Regions from separate parts of the Homo sapiens genome. Here region 1 is linked to region 2. Evidence: fine-mapped expression QTL. Tissue or cell type: unexposed skin. Region 2 holds a variant in brackets; the other region holds the start of a gene. All regions are shown on one strand. Distances are from middle to middle.

The links. PIP is the estimated chance that this variant, and not a neighbour inherited with it, causes the effect.
Region 1: it holds the start of LINC01659, and the variant in region 2 is fine-mapped to the expression of LINC01659 in unexposed skin (GTEx, PIP above 0.99).

The regions. Positions count from the first base shown.
Region 1 is chr22:23,429,583-23,436,855 of GRCh38, forward strand. LINC01659 (long intergenic non-protein coding RNA 1659) reads left to right here and starts at 3,982. Exons shown (of 3, transcript NR_110538.1): 1 at 3,982-4,479; 2 at 4,978-5,148; 3 at 5,242-5,489. RefSeq lists enhancers at 1,658-2,503, 6,070-6,761.
Region 2 is chr22:23,450,752-23,458,603 of GRCh38, forward strand. No RefSeq gene overlaps it. Among named protein-coding and RNA genes, the nearest start is that of LINC01659, 21 kb to the left of the region's middle. RefSeq lists enhancers at 1-388, 935-1,581. The variant G/T (reference allele first, on the strand shown) is at 3,767.

The sequences.
Region 1 (7,273 bases), 21 kb before region 2:
CACTTCCTTAACATTTCTTATATTGTTGTCCTGCCACTAACAAATTTTCTCGGCTTTTCTTTGTCTCAAAATGTCTTTATTTCATCTTCATCTTTAAAGGATATTTTCACTGGATATAGAATTCTGTGTCGACAGTCATTTTTTTTAAGCATCTTAAGAACGTTTGTTTTGTTGTTTTCTGGCTTGCATGGGTTCTGACAAGAAGTCTGCTAGTAGTCTTATCTTTGTACTTTGTATATAATATACACCCCACCCCCAGCTGATTTTCTTTGTATTTATCCTGCTTATGGTTCATTGAGCTCCTTGGATTTATGGATTTATAGTTAGTCAGATTTGGGAAATTTTGGCCATTGTTTCTTTAAGTATTTTTTCTGTTCCCCTCCCCTTTTTCCAGTACTCCAGTTTTACATATTTTAAGTCACTAATATTATCCTAATTACTGAAGCTTTGTACTTTTTGTTTTTTGGTTCTCAATCTTTTTTCTGTGCTTTAATTTGGATAGTTTCTGTTCCTGTCTTTAAGTTCACTGACCTTTTATCCTGGAGTATCTAACCTGCCCTTGATTTCATTCAGTGGAGTTTTAAAATTTCATTTGTTTTTCATGCCTAAAAGGTCTATTTGGTTATTTTTTTCATATCTTTGGTTTCTCCTTCATTTTTGTAGTCTGTTGCTACGTAACAACTTTCTCCAGAAGTTAGCACCTAAAACAGCAGGCATTTGTTGTCTCGTGAAGTTTTTGAAATTCAGGAACCCAGAGCAGTTTAGCTGGATGGTTTTGGCCCAGATTCTCGTCAGAGGGTGCAGTTAGGGGCTTTTGTCCTGGGTTGCAAAGCTGAAGGCTTGACAGGGGCCAGATGATGTGCCCAAATTCATTTAGGTGGCCCTTGGCAGGAGACTTCACTTTCTCTCCATATGGACCTCTCCATAGGTCTGCTTGAGTGTCCTCACAACATGGCAGCGTTCAACGCAGAGTGAGTGTTGAATGAGTTAGGAAGAGACAGACAGAGCCAGCCCAAGATGGAAGCTACAGTGTATTTTATAACATAATCTTGGAGTTGATCTACTATCACATCTGCCTTTTTTTTTTTTTTTTTTTTTTTTTTTTGAGACAGAGTCTTGCTCTGTCACCCAGGCTGGAGTGCAGCAGCACTGTTATAGCTCACTGCAACTTTGAACTCCTGGGCTCGTGATCCTCCCGTCTCAGCCTCCTGAGTAGCTGGGACTACAGGTGCACACCACCATGCCTGGCTCTGCCGTTTTCAATTGATCATGTAGGCCAACCTTGGTATGATGTGGGAGGAGACAGCACCAGGGTGTGACTGCCAGGAAGCAGGGTCGCTCAGGGCCATCCTGGGAGCTAGCAGCCATCCCCTTCACTGTGTTCAGGTTTTCCTGTAAATTCTGCAGCATATTTATAATTGCTGTTTTAAAATCCTTGTCTGCTGATTTCATCATTTCTGGACTTATTTCTATTGGCTGAGTTTTCTCCTAGCTATAGAACACATTTTCCTTTTTTTGCATGCTTAGTAATTTTTGATTGTATGATGGTAATTGTTAATTTTATGTTAAGTGTATGAAAGGGTGCAAATTTCCTTGTTCTTTCTTTGAAGAGTATTGGGCTTTTTCTGGCAAGCAGTTAAGTTATTTTGGGGTCAGCTTGATCCTTTCAAGAACTGTTTTCACACTCTCTTGGGGCTTGTATGGATTTGCTTTTATTCCAGGGCTAGTTTAACTCTGCTACTAAGACATGACCCTTCTGAGGTTCCTAGCAGATGACCTGGGTGCTCAGCAAGAACACTTGCTCTGGCTGGTCGGCATGTGCCTGTCCCCGGTCCTGCGTGACCTCTGGAGTTGTTCCCTGACAGCTCCCCGATGTGCTTGGTTCAGCCTTGTGGAGTTGCATGCTGTGTGCGTAGAGTGTATTACTCAGCAGCTCAGCGAGACCTTTCTCCAGGTTGCCAGAAGCCTTCTGTGCACAGCTCCGCCCTCCACAGATCCTCCCTTCCTCTCAGCAGGACCATCATGCTGAGCTTGAGCTGTACCCCACGGCGCCAAGCCTGGAAGAGACCACTGGGTAGAGCAAGGGGTGTTCAGAGGTTCACTTCATTTGTTTCTCTGTCTTTAGACAGCCCAGTGTCTGTGAACAGTTACTGTGTGTATTTTGTTCATTTTTCTAGTTGTTTACAACATGAAGGCAGACCTGGTCTCAGTTGCCCAGCATGACGTCCCAGATCCACATGTGAGGAGGAGCAGCAGCATGGGGGTTCCGCTGCGAGCTCAGGGCAGGGGTCTGTATTCCAGGAACTTGGGTGGGCTTCATAGACCCCTGTCGTTCCCAGAATTATAGGCAGCACGGAGTGTGCTTGTGCACACTTTCCTGGGTGGAGAGGCACACGGCACCTCACGCATTGAAGCGTTGTGGCCCCTCGGGGAGTTAAGACCCAGTGGGAGGAGGACCAGGGCGGGGGGCCTGGAGATGGAACCGCACCTTCCCATGCTGCCTCGCTAATTCTACAAATACTGTTGACATCCTGTGCGTGTGGCCTTGGGCAGAGGGGTAAAGACCGGGCAGCCCTGGCAGGGGCTCTGGGGCCAAGGATGTCACCTTCTGGGGGTAAGAGCGAGATGTCCTTCCAGAGCCTGGGTTTTGAGAGGAGGTCACCCTGGCCTGGTTAGGATGAGTTGTCATCTTTTAGCTTTTGGTTTGGTTTCTGTTTGTGTTTATTTTCACTTTTTGCCATGGAAAGTTTTAAGCATATATATAAAAATATGGAAAACAGCATCGAGAAGTCCCTGTGAGCCCATCCCACCCTCTTCCCCCTTCCTGGATTATTCTGAAGCAAATCCAAGGTATCGTAATCAATTTAGCTGCAATCATTCAAGTATTGTAGCATGTGTCTCTGAAAGGCTGGTGACTCCATAAAGCCCTAACCAGAGTCCTTTTATTGTGGTAGGACCTGGTCTCGGTGGGTGAGGACAGTGGGGAAAGGGGCAGCGTCCAGCAGGGTGACCACCTGTGCGAAGGAGAAGAGAGACAAAGCACCTGGTGTTGGACCAGACAGGGGGCTCAGGACCTTGGGCTGCAGTTGACCACGTGAGGCCCTTAGCCTCCAGAGAAGGAGCTGGTTTAACATGACCCATGGTTGTGGAGACCTTGCTTCCTAGGTGGGGCTGCCGTGCCCCTACCATCCTCCCACATAAGCACGTTACAGAGATCTGTGGAGCCAAGGGGCTAGTTCACCAAAATAAGACCTGGCCGTGTCCACCACTCTGCTGGTCTGGCTGGGGCTGCCGTCACAGAGCCCCACAGCGGGGGCTGAGACCGCAGATGTGTGTCTCACACAGTTCTGGAGGCTGAAATCTGAGATCAAGGGTCACCGGAGTTGGCCCCTGGGGAGGACTCTCCTCCCGGCTTGTGGACGGCCGCCCCTTGTATTCCTGTGTGGCCTTTCTCCTGTGCACTTGGAGAGCTCTGGTGCCCCTGCTGGATCAGGACCCACCCTTATGACCTTCATCAGACTTGACTTCCCTCCTTAAAGGTCCTATTTCCAAATACAGTCACATGGGGATTAGGTTAGTATCTAAATTTGGGGGACACAGTTCAGACTGTAACAGTTGCTCTGCACAGCCCCGCTCGGTTACATCATAGATGTTTGCACACATCTGTGCACGTGAACTACGTGTTATCTGTTGCACATGCAGCGTTACTAAACAGGGTTCCCTTATACCTCCCGGGGTTCTCGGAGTGGCGTCTTCTCTTTTGCTGGGAACCTTGCCGCCTTTCCTCTCCCTGCCCCTCCCAGCCCGTGGGCCACCTGCTCTCTTCCACGCCTTCCTTTCTCCTCTGCTTGTGCAGCGGAAGGTTCTGCCAGCAGGGGAGTTAGTGAGCAGCCAGTGGAGGGTGTGCCCAGCCTTCCTGCTGCAGACCCGCCCCCAAGTCAACACGGACTTCCCTCCCTGCGCGCCAGAACTTTGCGTTGTTCTTAGTGGCATCTGGGGTCGAGGAGGGCGACTGTCAGCCAGTTGGGGGATGTTTTCTTCTTGGTCTCTCGGCTTCTGCTTCCCTGTGAGCTGGGCAGCCTCAGCCCAGGTCCTATCCGGTACTCAGCTGGCCTCGGTGTGCACAGCGCAGGCTTGAGTGCAGCCGTGGGGGCGGGCGGGGCAGAAGCAGGGCCCCTGGGAACAGCTGAGTCTGAAGGGTCAGAAGCCACGGCCCCTGTGGGGGGCTCTGGGGCAGCCAGGGGAGCTGCTCGTTAGTCGTCTCTGGGGCAGAAGGAAGGGACCTTCACCTGGGTTGGGACTGGGCCTGGGTCCCCAGTCTCACAGGGAGCTCGTCCTGATTGTACCTGCCCGGCTGTGACGGCTGAGCCCGGGCTCCTGGAGGCAAGGCCACCTCAGGCCTCCAGGGCCGGAGCCGCAAGGAGCTGCTGGGTTTCCACAGGGCCACGGGGGCTGCGGCCACACGGAGCGGGAGCACAGGTGGGAAGGGTGTCTGTGAAAAATGAAATCTGTTGCCGCTTCCTCTAGCTTAATTACTGGCATGGTGGTTGCAGAGTTGAAATGCAGCTTTAAAAGCCTTTGTGAGTAATTAGTGTCAAACACACAAGATCTACAAAGCCATAAACTCACAGCTTGGTGATATTACCAAGTACTAATTAAGAAAGAAAAAAGAAAATTCCCTTTCATGATCAAATTTTGAGCCCTGCCAAAGATGAAAAACAAGGCAATTTGCAGCCGATGGCGACGCCGGAGGGTAAGTGGCGTCCACAGGAAGATGGCGGCCGAGCGCGGCGAGCAGGCAGGGTCTGGTTGAGGGCTGGGGTGGTGACGGCGTGATTGTGCCTGGCTACCGGGTTCTCAGCCAGGCAGCACCTGATTCCCAGGAGAGATGGAATCCCAGCTCAGAAAGGGGAGACTCATGCGAGGGCAGAGGCAAGGCACCCGCCCAGAAGGATTGGGGGTCTCCCCATTTCACAGGTGGGGACACTGAAGCTGAGCTCACAGCCAGGAGAGGGACAGCAGAGTGACGGCCGAGACCATCTGCACTGCGAGGGAAGCAGCGCCCACCTTCCTTGGTGGTCCGGGAAGGCCGGACCGGCCCCTTGGGTCCCCACTGGCCTCAGCCACTGTGGGCTCGTCCAGCTTCAGGTAGGCGCCCGGCCACTCACCTGGGAGGCTCTGAGAACGACAGCTTCTGTCTCGTGAGTGACGTGGTGCCCGCTTTCATCCTGGGGCCCACAGCTGCCAGGAGAGGCCAGGCCGAGGTCAGGAGGCTCAGCAGCTGGTTCCATGACTTCCTCTTCGCTGAGGAGGTCAGGACAGAAGCTTCTAGATGACAGGCCGCCCAACTTGGTATAAAACAGCAAATTTCTGTGCCTGTGCTGTCGGGCTGTGAATGACTTCTCGTCTGTTTCATGAGATGCAGCTTCAGCCCAGGGAGCCATCAGATGCAGCCGGGCGAGACGCGGAGCCAAGAGCTGTCCTCGCCCCCCATGTGAGTGACTGGAGAGACGAAATTCTCAAAGTCTTGTCACTTACGGGGATATTTTTAACCCAGGACCAGGGAAGCACAGCTCTCATTGGTGGCCGAGTGCTCTGGCGCTTGGGCAGTGGGCAGCAGCCAGGTTATCGGGACGTGCTCAGGCCCAACAGGACCCCCAGAGCCGCACCTGCCCCCCACAGAGTAGAGCCGGCCCGGGAGCGGCCTTGGTCACATCTAATCCCACCAGCCGCCGACAGTGGAGAGCTGTGCCTGGCCCAGAGATGTGGGCATCACATCCAGGCTGCAAACACACGGGGACCACCTGGCCCCGCCAGGGTTCGCTCTATCCTGGCTTGGCCTGCATGGCCTCTCGCCGTCTGCATGGTCCACTCACCCGAGTCAGGGCTGGGGCATGCAGGGAGTGTGCAGTGACATTGGGCAGAGGGAGGCTGCTCAGGTCCAAGTAGGCAGAGAAACCGCATGCCCAGGCCGCTAAAACCTTGAACTGCAGGAGCCCTGAGCTGCTGTTGCTGTTTTATTGTTTTGTTTTGTTTTGTTGTCAGATGGAGTCTCATTCTGTTGCCCAGGCTGGAGTGCAGTGGTGCGATCTTGGCTCACTGCAACCTCTGCCTCCCGGGCTCAAGTGATTCTCCTGCCTCAGCCTCCCGAGTAGCTGGGATTACAGGCACCCGACACCATGCCTGGCTTTTTTTGTATTTTTAGTAGAGACGGGGTTTTGCCATGTTGGCCAGGCTGGTCTCGAACTCCTGAGCTCAGGTGATCCATCTGCCTTGGCCTCCCAAAGTGCTGGGATTACAGGTGTGAGCCACCGCGCCGGGCTTGTTTTACTGTTTATGACGCGGCTCTGCTGCCGCTAGGACAGATACTTGTACAGCCCGATTCAAAGACTGTGCAGAGGCGTCTCCCAGATACCCCAGGGTGCACTGCAGTCAAGGAAGGCTGCCTGGAGGAGGTGGCCTGGAGCTGGGGCTCACAGGTGAATTAGAGTTTGTCTGGCTGGGTTGGGGAGATGTTTCTGGCCTCAGGATCTCACGTGCTCATGCTCACCGGCTCCAGGGCACCCAGCGTGCAGGGAGAGCAGAGGGGTAGGCCTCGGGCTCCAGGCCAAAGTTGGGGAAAGAGAGTGTCAGACCTGGGCTTGGGGGACGACTCTGATGTCGTCCTCATGGGGGATGGTTGAGTAAAGGGTGGGGTGTGGCTCACTCGTCTGGCCCTCGCCCATGTGGAATGCCCACCGTGCTGGGCCCCGCTGCAGGTGCTGGACGCGCAGCAGTAATGCGGGGGTCCTGCTCCGCCTGGGCACATCTTCCAGCAGGGATTGGAGGGCCGATGGCCAGGCAGGGTCTGTGCTCTGTGTCTAGGTGGTTACGGGGGGAGGCGGGGAGCCTGGGCCTTGGCTGTGGGTGGACCTGTGGCTTGCTGACCTGGTGCCCAGCTGCCCCACCTCCCAAACTGTGAGAAGCCAGGACCAGCCCCATCCTCCATCCAGATGGTCTCTGACGTTGCCCTGGGAGCCGGGGGGGAGGGGTGGGGGATGTTCTAACTGAAGGGCCTGGGCGGCCTAGAGCCCTTCTGTATCTTCTGGCCAATGGTTTTATCTGGTCCACTGCCTCCCAAGCCTGCACATCCCATCACGCGCATTTAAACTGTTAAAAAGTTACTCCCTTGACTAAGCCGGAAATGCTCTCTATGGCCCTGTGGATCTGCGTCCAGTTCCCCACGACATTCCGTTTTTGGAGGCTTTGTGAAGAGGCTGGGGGTTTGTCAGCC
Region 2 (7,852 bases):
TCCAAGGCCTTCAGCCCCTGAGACTTTTTAGGGAAGGGAGGGCAGCCCTGGCCGTGGAGGCTCGTGCAGAGTTGTGTGCATGGTGAGACTGCCCAGCACTGTTCACAGGCGCTCAGACGGGCACCGCAAAGACCCGTGGACAGACAGAGCTGTGCCCCACCTGGGATTCGCACAAGCCCAACCTGGGTGCCCTGGCCACTGGGTGCCGAGGGGCATGGGCCCGTGTCTCTCACACCTCAGCAGCAGCCCTATGACAGGTGGCCTCAGCGGACTCTGCTGTGGCCACCTGACCAGCGCCACCCACCCCAACCAGCTGGCTGGGCTCACGCTGTGACCCACGCCTGGCGTCTGTGGTGCCACCAGCCAAGATGCCAGCCATGACGCCAGCGTGGCACCCCAAGCCCAGGACATCTGGGGCAGGTGGGTGGGCAGCACCGGCCTCAGCAGCCCACAGAGGGGCCTCCCACAGAGTGTCTGGAGACGCTCCAGGCAGACGGGCAGACGAGCAAGACGCCTGAGGGTTGCAGGCCAGGTGGATAAGGATTGGGGCTTGCATGTGTCCGCAGTGGGGAACCCGTGTGCTCAGCGGCCTGTCTCGAAGCTGTTCCGCTCTTGCAGATATAATTTAGATATACATTTTTCCTAATTACAAATATGCAGCATATAAAAAAATCTGGAAAATGCAGAGAACCATGAGTCACTTTCCATCCCAACACTCCGAGTTAACCGCCATTAACATTTTGAAGATTTTCTAAGGGTCCTTTTGCACTCTGTGAGTGTGGGTGTGAGAGTGTGTGTCGTGCTGCAGTGTGAACTTGAAGGGTTTTCTCACCCCTGAAGTTCAAGGCTGACTCTCGGCGGACGCTGCTGAGTCTTCTCCCCGGCTCGCCCCATGTGTGCATGAAAGTGCCTGGAATGCGTCAGATTCTCAACTTGAGAAGCCCGGAGAGTCTTTTGAAGTTGAAAACACTGATTTCCTTACAGCCTCAAGACAAAAAAAAATCTCCCCTTCGCTGGCTTTGAGAGCAGGTGTCTTCTACAAGCGAGGTTCACAGGGACCTGTGGCTGCCCCGGCAGATGCCAGCCAGGCACGCCCATCTCCTCTCCCACGGGTCCTGGTGGGGGAGCCTCTGTGGGAAGCCTGGGGGCTCCGGGGCCTGGCAGACAACCAGTCCTGCTGCAGCGAGGTGGGGACAAGGCCGGGAGCAGCTCACTTCCCAGTAGAGGCCATCCGATGGCACCAGGGCACGGGGCAGCTGCCGTCCTCATGGCCCGGGGTAACGTGGGCACAGGGTTTCCTCATCCCACTGTGCTCGGTGTCTCCCCTGAGCCCGGTGATTTTACGCACCTGACTTTGTTAGTCTTCTCGGCAATGCCCAGCATGCAGACCAGGCTCAGAGAGGTGTGTCGGTGTGCCCAGGGTCACGCAGCTTCCTGGTGGCCAAGCCGAGGTTAGAAGCTAGTTCTGGTGGGTGTGAAAGCCCCCGACGTCGGCAGCTCTGCCACCAGGCCCACACAAGCAGGTGGTGTAAGAGGGGAGGTGTTGGGGCCGGCAGTGCTCAAGTCAGGATCGAGCCGTCTATCTGGAAGGTCGTCGAGGGTGTGTGGTGGTGGCTGGGAGGTGGTGGCAGGCTAACTACCTGCCGTTTTCCTGCAGTGCCTAGGCCCAGGAGAGGGAGCAGCCCCCAGTCAGGACCCAGCTGCAGGACACCCCATCCTCATGCACCTTGCTTCCCGCTCTCCCTCCCCCCACAAATGGGCTCCCAGCATAACTTCCCCCAAGGGCTCCTTTCCTCTCCTCTCCCCACACACAGCCCTGCTCGGGAGTGGCGCTTGCAGCACACCAAGGACAGGAGGATTGGGCTTCAGGGAAGCAGGCGCCTGGAGCTGTGTCCAGTTAGGTGCATGGCGCTTGCAGATCTGAGCATGGAATATTCATGCCTCCCCCAGCCCAGCAGCTGCGGCTTCTCATCTGGAACAAGGGGGTGCTTCTCCCAGGAAGGCCAGTGGGAGCAGGGGTGTGTCTGAGAACGCCGGGCGCTCTGCCCTCACGATGGCTGCTGATGCCACAGCCCCGGCCTCTGTGCCCAGGCCACTCTCCAGCCTGGTGAAGTCTGTTCTGGGAAAAGAGAGAAGCAAGACAGATGTGGGCCTTGCCCTGTGGGGCCAGGGCACGGGCAGGAATCCCACTTGGGGTTAAGACGCTGCAGTCACCCCCCTCCGGGTTCTGTGCACTGGCCCCTCCAGGTGCTGGGGTCCTCTGTGGCCGTGGCGTTCTAGGAGAGATGGGCAGGGAGACGCTGGCGCCCTGTTGTGTAGCTTGTCCTTGTGTCTGCTTCACAGGCTCTTCCACTGTGCAATTTCCTAAAATTTTGGCGAGGCCCATTTATCCATTTTAATTTTATTCTATGGATTGTGCTTTGGTGTTGAGTGTCAGAGCTCTGCCTCATCCAGATCCTGAAGATTTCTTTTTTAAAATAATTCTGTGTTTTACATGTAAGTTCATGATACAGTTTGAGTTAAATTTTATATGAGATGTGAGGTTTCGGTCAAAAAAAAATTTTTTTTTAACTAAGTGTGTCCAGCTGCTCCGGCTCCAGCTGTAGCAAAGACAAGACTGCCCCTCCTCCACTGAAGCACCTTTGTGACTTTTTTGTGACTTTTCTGTATCGATTAATAGGATCATATGTTGTTTATTCTTTAGCCTGTTGATATAGCAGATTACATTGATTGATTTTCAAATACCAAGCTAGCCTCGTACACCTAAACTAAGTCCCACTTGGTCACGGCATAATATTCTCTGTTAGAAAGTGGCCTGGACACGTCTGTGGGTCTCTTTCGAGTTCCTCTGTTCTGTTCCGCTGGTCTCCACATCTCCCCTCCAGCGCTGCCCCAGCCATGTCTGTCTGATGTAGGAGCTGTATAACGCTGTGCTGTAGCTGTACAGTTCTCAACATCAGGAAGGGCAATTCCCCTACTCTTCTTTTTTGGAATGGCTTTCCATATACATTTTAGAATAATCTTGTGTCTCTCTACCAAAAAAAAAAAAAAAAAAAAGATGCTGGCCAGGCATGGTGGCTCACACCGGTAATCCCAACACTTGGGGAAGCCAAGGCAAAAGGATCGCTTGAGCCCAGGAGTTGGAGACCAGCCTGGGCAACACAGGGAGACCCCATCTCTATGAAAAAAACACAGCCATGAGTGGTGGTGCGCACCTGTAGTTACAGCTACTTGGCACGTTGAGGCAGGAAGATTGCTTGAGGCTGCAGTGAGCCAAGACCACACCACTGCACTCCAGCCTGGGTGACAGAATAAGACCCTCTTTCCAAAAAAAAAAAAAAAAAAAAAAAAAAAAAATATATATATATATATATATATATATATATATGCTGAGGTTTAGACAGCAATTACCTTAAAACCAAAGATCAATTTTGGAAAAATTGATTTACTATAAGTCTTCCAGTTCATAAACATTGTATCTATTTATACAAACATTCTTTTGATTCCTTTCATCAGTATTTCCTAACTTTCTGCAAACAGACACTATACAAGTTTTTGTTAGATTTATACCCAAGTATTTAAGATGTTCTGTAAATTATATTGCCTTTTAATTTTGTTTTTCACTTGTTTGCCATTGCTTTATAGAAATGTGGTTAATTTTTGTATGTTCATCTTATTTCCTGCAACCTTCGTGAACTCACTTAGTGTTCGAGGAGTTTTCTGCAGATTGCTCAGGATTTTCTACATGGGCTGTCACGTCATTCTA[G/T]GAGTTTTCTGCAGATTGCTTAGGGTTTTCCACGTGGGCCGTCACGTCATTCTAGGAGTTTTCTGCAGATTGCTTAGGGTTTTCCACGTGGGCCATCATGTCATTTGCGAGTAGGGACAGTTCTGTTCTTTTCCAATCCCTATGCTGCTGCTTTCCTTTTCTTACCTGCATGCCCTGGCGTGAGGAGCTCCCATGCTGGGTTGAGGATGAGTGGGGAAAGCCAGCTCTCCGCTGACCGAATGAGGGAAGGCGGCCAGACTCCTCCGTGAAGCAGCGTGAGCTGAGGGTTCTTCATGGTGCTTTTTACCAAGTCGGAGGACTTTCCCTTGATTCCTGCTTTGCAAGAGTTCTTGTCAGGAATGGAGATTAAATTTTGTCAAATGCTTTGCCTGTGTCAATAGGATCATATCATTGTTTTCCTTTAGCCTGTTGATAGGGTGAATAACATTGATTGATTTTCAAATTTGAACTAGCCTTCGTTGTACACCTAAACTGAATCCCACTTGGTCAGGGTGTGATACTCTTTTTCGTAGATTGCTGGATTCCATTTGTTAGTACTTGTTGAGTATTTTTGCATCTAAGTTCATGAGAGACTGATACTTATTTTTCTGTGTGTGCGCACCATCCTTGTTGGTTTCAGTACAAGGTTAATAGTGGAAAGGTGTTTCCCTGTCTTTTGTTAACTGAAAAAGGATTGTGTAAAATTGGTATTAATTCATATTTAATGTTCGGTAAAACTTTCTAGTGAAACCATCTGGGACTGGAGATTTTGAGTAGCATTTTAATTACAACAAACTCGATTTATTTAATGGTTATAGGACTACCGAGGCTATTTTATCTTGGCACGTTTTGGTAGTATGTGGTTTTCGACGAATCCGTCCAGTTCGTTATGAGCATCAAGTTTTGTTGTAGTATTTTTTATTGTTATTTTAATAGCTTCTGGATCTATTATAATATTTCCATTTCATTTCTGATATTGGTCATTTCACTCTCCCCCCTTTCTTTTTTTTGAGATGAAGTCTTGCTGTGTTGCTCAGGCTGGAGTACAGTGGCATGATCTCGGCTCACTGCAAGCTCTGCCTCCTGGGTTCATGCCATTCTCCTGCCTCAGCCTCCCAAGGAGCTGGGACTACAGGCACCCACCACCACACCCAGCTAATTTTTTGTATTTTTAGTAGAGATGGGGTTTCACTGTGTTAGCCAGGATGGTCTCGATCTCCTGACCTCGTGATGCCCTGCCTTGGCCTCCCAAAGTGCTGGGATTACAGGCGTTCCCCCTTTTTAATCTTTGTCAGTTTTGCGAGGGGTTTATCAATTTATTGTTGCTGGTCTTTTTAACAAATTTTTGAGACAGGGTTTCACTCTGTTGCCCAGGCTGGAGTGCAGTGGTGTGATCATAGCTCACTACAGCCTCAAACTCCTAGGCCCACGTGATCCCACATACCTGGGGCTACAGGTATATGCCACCACACCTGGCTGATTGATTATAGAGATGGGGTCTCACTGTGTTGTCCAGGCTGGTCTCAAACTCCAGGGCTCAAGTGATCCTCTCACCTTGGCCTCCCAAAGTGCAAAGATTACAGGTGTGAGCCCCTGCTCCTGGCCGGCCTTATTGCTATTTTTTAAAGAACCAGTTTTTGGTTTTAATAACTGTCTTTTGTTTTCCTATTCATTCCTACTTTTATTATTTCCTCCTCCTGCTTCGGGCTTGTTTCTCCCTGCGTTTCTTGAAGTAGGAATTTAGAGAAGCAATTTGAGATCTTTCTCCTTTCCTGATACTGGCATTGAGTGCTGTCTGTTTCCCTCTAAGCACTGCCTTGGGTGCGTCTGGCAAATTTCATTATGCTGTATTCTTGTTTCCATTCTGTTCTCTTTTTTATTTCCTTCGAGGCATCCCATTTGACTCGTGGATTACTTAGAAGTGTGCTGTTTGATTTCCAGGCACTTACAGTTTTCCTGTTGTCCTTCTCTGACTGGTTTCTGGTTTTGATGTCCACTGGTGTGGCCTCCACCTCTTCACACCACCCCACAGATGAACAGCATTCACATAACTTCCCAGTATCTCGAAGTAGCATCGTTTCCATTTCCTGCGTGTCTTCTCATTTTACTGCATTATTTCAGCTTTGCTTGTTTGAGCCAGGATTCAGGGCTTCCTTCATTCCATCTCTAGCTTCCTCCCCTTGAGTTTCCCCGTTCATGGAGTTTCTCTTGGACCCTCAGCAGCAGGGGGTCTTGTTCTTGACAGGAATCCCTCACACTTCCCCCTTGGCCTCCGAGCCCCACCACATCCTGCAGTTGGTGGTGTGTGGAGAGAGGCGCTGTCTCTGCTCTCCAAGCACTTTGTCAGCCTCCACCCCTCCCTCACTCCGTGCCTCTTGTCCGTGCCCGCTGGGACACCATGGGGCTCGGCTCGGGATGGTGGGACCAGCGCTTAGTAAGACCCCTCAGCCCTAGGCACCGTGTGAGCACTGCTCACGTGGCAGAGCTGGAATGGGGGCCGGGCACACACTCCCTGGCCCACGTGTTCCACGGACGTGCTGCAGAGGTCCCCGGCCCTCCAGGGCAGGCCCTCTCTGCTTCCAGAGGGGCAGGTGAGCCCCAGGCCAGGCCAGGCCAGCCGGGGTCTGGACTGGAGTGCAGTGGCCACAATGGACGCCGCGAGTGTCTTCATTAAGAGTGAGTGTCTCAGTCTCCCCCAGGGCACCCGCCAGCCACATGGCCGCTATGTGTGCAGACTAGACAGGTGGCAGCTCGGGCCGGCCAGACAGAGGGAGAGGAAGCCAGAGCCTGCGCGCAGGCAGCCTCATAAATATTTCCAGCCACAGCCAACGTGTCTTACTGACAATTTGCTTTTTAAAAAATTGCGCTCTAATTTTAAGTGAGCAGCCCCTAATTACAGTGATTTACGAGGTACCTGGGGACTGTGTGATATTTGAACATGGCAGAGGGCTGAGCAGAGATGGCAGAGATGGATGGGCCCGGTGCCACTCATTCAGCAGGTCCTGCTAATGCCGGAGTGTTGGACCGAGGTGGAGCCTCCCAATGCGGCCGGGTATGCTGGGGGAAACGGAGTCAGAGGTGGGCTGCACGGCAGGTCGACTTGTTCACAGGGGGCTGGTGTTTTGCAAACGCTGGGTCTGCCTTCGTGTAGGGTTTGAGCTGGGAGAGTAGCACTGGTCACTCCTGCCTGTCTCCGTCCACCCCCACCCCCACCTGGAGGGCAGTGCGGTATCTTAGGGCGTCATTCTTCCAGAGCCGCCTGAGGCCAGCAGAGAGGAAGTGCTGTAGGAGCCGTGAGTGGGCGGCCCGGCCTACCATTGGGAGCAGCTGTCTTGCTGATGCTGGCAGGGTGCACCTGTTTCAAATAAAGAATGATCAGAGATCACACCTGTAATCCTCACGTCATGAGCAGCTGAGGCAGGAGGATCACGTCAGGCCAGGAGTTTGAGACCAGCCTGGGCAACATAGCTAAAGCCTATCTATCTCTCAAAAAAATTTAAAAATTAGCCAGGTGTGCTGGCACATGCCTGTCATTCCAACTGCTCAGGAGGCTGAGGTGGATCACTTGAGCCCAGGAGCTCGAGGCTGAGTGACCCATCATCATGCCACTGCACTCCAGCCTGGGTGACAGAGTGAGACTCATCTCTAAAAAAAAATTGTTTTAGAAATGAACAGCCAGGCTCCCAAAGCCTGCCAGCCTCTGAGGGCCGGGGAAGGCGGGTGCCTGGAGAACAGCTATTCTTTGGTCCAGCCTGGCCAGAGTCTGCACCACAGTGCCCCAGGCCCAGCCAGGTTGCCAGCCCTGGGTTGGGAGGAGGGCGAAGGGCCGGCTAAGGAGACTTCTTCCCACACTGCCTCCCCACCCCTGCCCAGCAGCTGCAGGAGAATCAGCCCCTCTGACATTTAGGGGGAGAAATTCAGAATCAAGAGCAGAAGGCAGAAATGAAAGGATTTTCTCAGTGAAAGGTCAGAGTGGTTTCTCTTGTTTTTGTTTAAAAATGGTTTGTGTTGAACTATGACAAGGCCAAATGTACTAAGGCAGCAGAAACAGGGGGAGGGCAGGGGGAGGGCACGGGGACGGCTCCT